2 linked regions of the Homo sapiens genome follow. The protein of the gene in region 1 purifies or fractionates together with the protein of each later gene. This does not show direct contact. Each region holds a gene or a part of one and is shown on either strand. Other genes may lie near its edges.

Region 1 (3,867 bases):
CTGAGAGAGGGGCCCTTGAGCTCCATGCTTTGAGTTTGGATTTTGAACTGGATTTTGAGTTTGGAGTTTACAGGCCTGCTGTAACTAGCTTTGGTCACCTATACCTAGGGACACTCTATAGCATGGCTGGGGGACTAGGATGGGGCAAGTGAGATGCCCCAAATGTAAGGAGGCCCTGGCTCTCAAGTGCTGACTGCACTTGCAAGGCCCTGAGACTGAGCTCCCCTTAAACTCAGCACCTCAGGCACCTCAGTGGGCTCACTGTCCTTCCAGCCCTGCTCCATGTCCAAGTCCCTTGATCTGCCTGTCCCCAGGACAACCCACTTTAAGACAAGGCTCCTTCACCCTGTAGTTCCCTTGGAGCTGGGGATGGGTCTCCTGTCTCTTGGGAGAAGAAGTTTCCCAAAATAGGCTGGGTGCTGCATCCCCCTGGATGCCAGTTGTGGGTGGAACTTCTCAGACTGAGTTTTTAACAAACACTGCCAAAGACCCCCCATCCCCAGTGAGATGTGAGTGTGGTGTTTCTGGGTCAGAAGGCGGCTTTTTCAGACCCCCAGTCTGTGGAAGCCTACATTTTGTACTGTGTGTGTGGGTGTATGTGTGTGTGTGTGTATGTGAAGAAAAGCTGTTTTCTTTAACAGGGGGGTGTGGAGAGGAGGCAGCCAGAAAGGCAGCTCCAAGTTGTGGATTTCCTGGGGGCTCTTCATTTAAAGCGGCCGCACCACTTTCCACAATTCTGTTTTTTCAGAGAATGCTCTCAAGGCCTGGAGGGAGGGCATGACAGGGGTATGGGGGAGGGGGGTGGCAGAGAGGCAAGATGGTGACCCTGATCTGGAGCAGTCAAACATTCTCCCAGAGACAAAACCGGCCTGGCTCTGCCCTGCCCCGCTGCTTCATTACCTTGGCCCAGGTTCCCTAATGTCTGTGAGTGGGCCTGACACCTCCCCATCAGGATACTGAGGGCTGGCAAGGCGGCCTTCATCTCTGTTCCAGCTGGGGATGGAAGGCCAGGAGAAGGATGGGGGGACCGACTACTGGGAGGAGCAAAATGGGGAGGAGCAAAATGGGGAGGGGGCTGGGAGAGTGAATGGGTGGATTTGTGATTGGGAATGATCCAAAGGAGAGGGGGTAGAAGGAGGGGTGGAAAGGGAAGGGGACTGACCAAATACAGTGGGATGGGGCCAGGGGCTGATATAACCGAGATGGGGAAGGGGTGAGTCTGGGTCTGGGAAAAACTGATCCAAAGGCAGAAAGGGAGGGGCGAAATGGAGGAGGGTACCGTGAACAGAGTAAGGGGGCTGGGAGAGGAAATTAGAGGGGAGGCGCTGGCCAGCAGGCAAGGCCTGAGCCCTCTCCCCCGGCGGTGGTTGGGGGGGGGCCGTGTCCATATAAAGCGGGTCGGCGGCCCCTGCGGTCCCGGAGCCGCGCGGGCAGGGGCTGCCGCAGCCGATGGCGGGGCGCAGCGACATGGATCCGCCCGCCGCGTTCTCTGGCTTCCCTGCCCTGCCAGCGGTCGCGCCGTCGGGGCCGCCGCCGTCGCCGCTCGCAGGAGCCGAGCCAGGGCGGGAGCCAGAGGAGGCGGCGGCTGGCCGCGGAGAGGCGGCCCCCACGCCCGCGCCCGGCCCGGGGCGGCGGCGGCGGCGGCCCCTGCAGCGCGGGAAGCCGCCCTACTCGTACATCGCGCTCATCGCCATGGCTCTGGCGCACGCCCCGGGCCGCCGCCTCACGCTGGCCGCCATCTACCGCTTCATCACCGAACGCTTTGCCTTCTACCGCGACAGCCCGCGCAAGTGGCAGAACAGCATCCGCCACAATCTCACGCTCAACGACTGCTTCGTCAAGGTGCCCCGCGAGCCGGGCAACCCGGGCAAGGGCAACTACTGGACGCTGGACCCCGCGGCCGCAGACATGTTCGACAACGGCAGCTTCCTGCGGCGCCGCAAGCGCTTCAAGCGCGCCGAGCTGCCCGCGCACGCGGCCGCGGCGCCAGGGCCGCCGCTCCCCTTCCCCTACGCGCCCTACGCGCCCGCGCCCGGCCCCGCGCTGCTGGTGCCGCCGCCTTCTGCCGGACCGGGCCCCTCGCCGCCCGCGCGTCTGTTCAGCGTCGACAGCCTGGTGAACCTGCAGCCGGAGCTAGCGGGGCTGGGCGCCCCCGAGCCGCCCTGCTGCGCCGCGCCCGACGCCGCAGCCGCAGCCTTCCCGCCCTGCGCTGCCGCCGCCTCCCCGCCACTCTACTCGCAGGTCCCCGACCGCCTGGTACTGCCCGCGACGCGCCCCGGCCCCGGCCCGCTGCCCGCTGAGCCCCTCCTGGCCTTGGCCGGGCCGGCAGCCGCTCTCGGCCCGCTCAGCCCTGGGGAGGCCTACCTGAGGCAGCCGGGCTTCGCGTCGGGGCTGGAGCGCTACCTGTGAGCCTGCGCCGCGCGGGCAGGCACCTGTGCGACCTGTGCCCCGGACCTGCGGCGCCGCCCTCGAGCGCCCCATCTCTACCCCCCACCCTGGCTTGGAGCACACCCTGCGCCTCTCGTCGTGGCCTCCTGGACTCAAACTCCTGCTACATCCTTCTCCGTCCCCCATCCCTGGGGAGGCTCCCACCATCTCGCCACTGGACAGAAGCGTCCCCTTTGACCTGCCAGCCTCTCATTTCTTCTCCCTCCACTTGTGAGCGCCCCCAGCTTTGCGGCGCCCCCCACCCCAGCGCTGTCTGTGGGTCCCTTGCCCCGGAGCTGACTCGCCTCCAGTGAGTCCATACCCCAGGTTTCCTGGTGAGTTCCAAGCCTTTGGAAGCCAGATCTGTGATCCCAAGCCGCCTCCTCCACCGACTGTACTTCATCAACCTTCTCTCATGTTTTTCCGACACTCCTGGGTCAGACTCCTGGGTTCATGACTTACTTGCTAGCGTCCCTTCATTTTCCCACAAGTTTGCCCCCCACCTCCACTTACCTGTCTGCCCTCAGCTTCTTCCTGGGAGAGAGCCCCCCTTTCACGTAGACACACCTGGCTGCCTTCTTCACGCCCTGAGGACACTTCTTGGAGATTTCAGACAGGCAGCACCAGGGCTCCTGACTGAAAGGGGAGTTGGTGGGCCTTTAGGTCTGCCCCATCCCCTGGAAAACTTAGGACTTATTGGGTTATTATTATTTTTAATTAAAGCTGGTTTAATTAAAAAGAAAGAAACTTTTTTCTGGACTTGGTGTGCTGGCTGGTGACTTGGGGGAGTGGTCTGGGGAGACGGGTGAGCTTTATTCTAGATCTTGGGTTGCCACATGGGGTGAACCTCCTTGTGAGACATCAATCAGAAGTTCATGAAATGGGATTAGGAAGTGATTCTCCAGCAGGATTAGTGGCTAACACAATTTTGTTTTAAAAAGGAAGTGATTCAGCCATAGCTGTGCACATAGTAGGCCTAGTCAAATGCCATCTCCTGCATCTCAGCCTGGTAGAGACGAGATGGGCTGGGCATGTGTGTGTACACACTTGTGTGAATGTATCTGAGCAGCAGGTTGTCTGCTCTCTGGGATTATTCCCAGCTCCCATGGATAAAGGAGCACTGGCCGTTGATTCACTCCTCCAGTTAGTTAATGTGCTGAGCCTGTGCTAGACACTGGGGAAATATTACTGAATGAATGGGCAAAATCCCTGCCTCATGGAGGTTGTGGGCCAGTGGGAAGAGTCATTAATCCAACCATCAACGCTCAGAGAAATAAGATAAGTGCTCTACAGCCTTGCACTCAAAGTGTGGTCCACAGACCTACAACATCACCTGGGAGCTTGTTAGAAATGCAGAATCTGGCAGGACGTGCTGGCTCATGCCTGTAGTCCCAGCATTTTGGGAGGCCAAGGCAGGAGGATCGGTTGAGGCCAGGAGTT
Region 2 (3,812 bases), on another chromosome or scaffold:
TGGTTCGTTTTTGTTTGTGTTCCTGTGAAGTCTGAAACAATTATTAAGAAAAGAAATGAGTGAAAAAAATACATACGTTGAAACAGAATACTGTTTTCCTGGAAAAGTCTTCCAGGAAAAACTTTTTTTTCTCAATTTTATGTATGAAGCAAAAGTCCTGTGTGTTTTTTGTAATTTTGTCTGTGGTCGGATCTCTCTTCACCAGACAAAAGAAAAGTACACAATTTCTAAAATGGTCCATTTTTTATTGATGAGTATTTATACTGCCTTCTGCCTTCCTTCTTTTCCTCCCTATTTAAAAACTTTTCCGTTTGTAAAAACCACAAGACAAAGAAAAAAGAGAGAGCTGTGACTAGCACATTTTAAATGTGTTAGCTGTTTGTCAACAGGTATCTGAATGCTATGGCCAAAGATACTTTTAGTCATAATTTATTTGTATATCATTTTGCAGTCTTTGAAGCATATATTTTCCCATTTGACCTGGTACTTGAGATGAGAAAGCTATAGCTTAAAATGTTCAAGTGACTTTTCTCAGATTTGATGCCAGGGCTAAGACTTCCAAGTCTCCTTCCTCTTAGTGTGGTCTTTCTCTTACTTCAGTAAGCTGGGTTTGCATATTTTATTTACTTATGGAATACAGTCAGACCACTGTGTTTGACTAAAGTTGAAGTATTGATTTAAGTATTGATTGAATTTATAAGAATTTGCTGGTACTCTTTAAAATAAGAGATGTCTATTTTCACACTGCTGATAAAGACATACCTGAGACTGGGCAATTTACAAAAGAGATTTAATGGACTTACAGTTCCATATGATTGGGGAGACCTCATAGTCATGGCGGAAGGTGAAAGGCAGGTCTCACATGGTGGCAGACAAGAGAGAGAGCTTGTGCAGGGAGACTTTTGTTTTTAAAACTGTGAGATCTCGTGAGACTCATTCACTATCATGAGAACAGCACAGGAAAGACCCACCCCTACAATTCAATCACCTCCCATCGGCTTCCTCCCACTACATGTGGGAATTGTGGGGGTTACAATTCAAGATGAGATTTGGATGGGGACACAGCCACACCATATCATTCCATCCTTAGCCCCTCCCAAATCTCCTGTTCTCGAATTTCAAAACCAATCCTGCCTTCCCAACAGTCCCTCAAAGTCTTAACTTATTTCAGCATTAACTCAAAAGTCCACAGTCCAACATCTCATCTGAGACAAGGCAAGTCCCTTCCACCTATGAGCCTGTAAAATCAAAAGCAAGTTAGTTACTTCCTAGATACAATGGATGTACAAGAATTGGGTAAATACAACCGTTCTAAATGGGAGGAATTGGCCCAAAGGGGCAGTGCAAGTCTGAAGTCCATCAGGGCAGTCAAATCTTAAAGCTCCAAAACGATCGTCTTTGACTCCATGTCTCACATCCAGGTCACGCTGATGCAAGAGGTGGGTTCGCATTGTCTTGGGCAGTTCTGCCCCTGTGGCTTTGCGGGATACAACCTCCCTCCTGGCTGTTTTCATGAGCTGGTGTTGAGTGTCTGCAGCTTTTCCAGGCACACAGTACAAGCTGTCAGTGGATCTACCATTCTGGGATCTGGAGGACGGACAGTGGCCCTCTTCTCACAGCTCCACTAGGCAGTGCCCCTAGGGACTCTCAGTGGGGATCCGACCCCACATTTCCCTTCCACACTGCCCTAGCAGGGGTTCTCCATGAGGGGCCTGCCCCTGCAGCAAACTTCTGCCTGGGCATCCAGGTGTTTCCATACATCTTCTGAAATCTGGGCAGAGGTTCCCAAACCTCAATTCTTGACTTCTGTGCACTCACAGGCTTGATCAACACCACAAGGAAGCTGCCAAGGCCATCCTCTGAAACCACAGCCCGAGCTCTATGTTGGCCCCTTTTAGCCATGGCTGGAATGGCTGAGACACAGGACACCAAGTCCCTAGGCTGTACACAGCACTGGGACCCTGGGCCCTGCCCATGGAACAATTTTTTCCTCCTAAATCTTCAGGCCTGTGATGGGAGGGGCTACCGCAAAGGTCTCTGACATGCCCCAGATACATTTTCCCTATTGTCTTGGGGATTAACATTTGGCTCCTCGTTACTTATGCAAATTTCTGCAGCCAGCTTGAATTTCTCCTCAAAAAATGGAATTTTCTTTTCTTTAACATTGTCAGGCTGCAAATTTTCCAAACTTTTATGCCCTGTTTCTCTCTTAAAACTGAATGCCTTGGCCAGGCACAGTGGTTCACGCCTATAATCCCAGCACTTTGGGAGGCCAAGGCTGGCGGATCATTTGAGGCCAGGAGTTCAAGACCAACCTGGCCAACATGTTGAAACCCCGTCTCTACTAAAAATACAAAACTTAGCTGGGTGTGGCAGTGCACACCTGTAATCCTAGCTACTCAGGAGGTTAAGGCAGAGAATCGCTTGAACCTGAGAGGCAAAGGCTGCAGTGAGCCGAGATGGTACCACTGCACTCCAGCTTGGGTGACAGAGCGAGACTCCATTTCAAAAAAAAAAAAAACTGGATGCCTTTAACAGCACCCATGTCACCTCTTGAATGCTTTGCTGCTTGGCAGTTTCTTCCACCAGATATGCTAAATCATCTCTCAACTTCAAAGTTCCACACATCTCTAGGGCAGGGGCAAAATGCCACCAGTCTCTTTGCTAAAATATAACAAGAGTCACCTTTGTTCCAGTTCCCAGCAAGTTCTTCATCTCCATCTGAGACCACCTCAGCCTGGATTTCATTGTCCATGTCATTATCAGCATTTTGGTCCAAGCCATTCAACAAGTCTCTAGGAAGTTCCAAACTGTCCAACATTTCCCTGCCTTCTTCTGAGCCCTCCAAACTGTTCCAACCTCTGCCAGTTCCAAAGTTGCTTCCACATTTTCAGGTATCTTTTCAACAGTGCTCCACTCTACTGGTACCAATTTACTGTATTAGTCTGTTTTCACGCTGCTGATAAAGACATACCCAAGACTGGGCAATTTACAAAAGAAAGAGATTTAATGGACTTAGTGTTCCACATGATTGGAGAGGCCTCACAATCATGGCAGAAGGTGAAAGGCACATCTCACATGGCAGCAGACAAGAAGAGAGAGCTTGTGCAGCGAGACTTGTGTTTTTAAAACCATCAGATCTCCAGCCGGGCATAGTGGCTCACATCTGTAATCCCAGCATTTTGGGAGGCCGAAGCGAGCAGATCACCTGAGATCGGGAGTTCGAGACCAGCCTGACCAGCATGGAGAAACCCCATCTCTATGAAAAACACAAAATTAGCCGGGCGTGGTGGCGCATCCCTGTAATCCCAGCTACTCGGGAGGCTGAGGCAAGAGAATCGCTTGAACCCAGGAGGTGGAGTTTGCAGTGAGCCAAGATCATGCCATTGTACTCCAGCCTGGGCAAAAAGAGTGAAACTCTGTCTCAAAAAAAGTAAATAAATAAAACTGTCAGATCTCCTGATACTCATTCGCTATCATGAGAACAGTGCAGGAAAGACCCACCCCCACAGTCACCTCCCACCAGGTTTCTCCCATGACACATGGAAATTGTGGGAGTTACAATTCAAGGTGAGATTTGGGTGGAGATACAGCCAAACCATATAATGAGCAAAGCAAAAGAATATTTTGGTGAAACCTAAGCAAATCCAAGACTTAAACTTTTTTGTTTAACTTTTTTTTTTTTCCCCTGGGAGCATATATTCAAATTGCCCTGAATAAACACTTCCAAGACTTACACTTTTTAAAAATGGTAATTAAGAAGATCGTTATAAGATACTTAAGGTTTGAAAATGTTTTGAGGCCAGGAGCAG

What was found.
Region 2: the proteins of FOXE3 (region 1) and C5orf22 purify together in Homo sapiens (affinity purification with mass spectrometry; one large-scale study listed by BioGRID and IntAct). This does not show direct contact.

Annotation. Positions count from the first base shown.
Region 1 is NC_000001.11:47,414,867-47,418,733, forward strand, and holds FOXE3 (forkhead box protein E3), read left to right. Parts: upstream 1-1,418; 5' UTR 1,419-1,449; coding exon 1,450-2,409; 3' UTR 2,410-3,186; downstream 3,187-3,867. UniProt on the Homo sapiens protein: Transcription factor that controls lens epithelial cell growth through regulation of proliferation, apoptosis and cell cycle.
Region 2 is NC_000005.10:31,545,794-31,549,605, forward strand, and holds part of C5orf22 (UPF0489 protein C5orf22), read left to right. Parts: intron 1-2,696; coding exon of another isoform or gene 2,697-2,894; intron 2,895-3,812.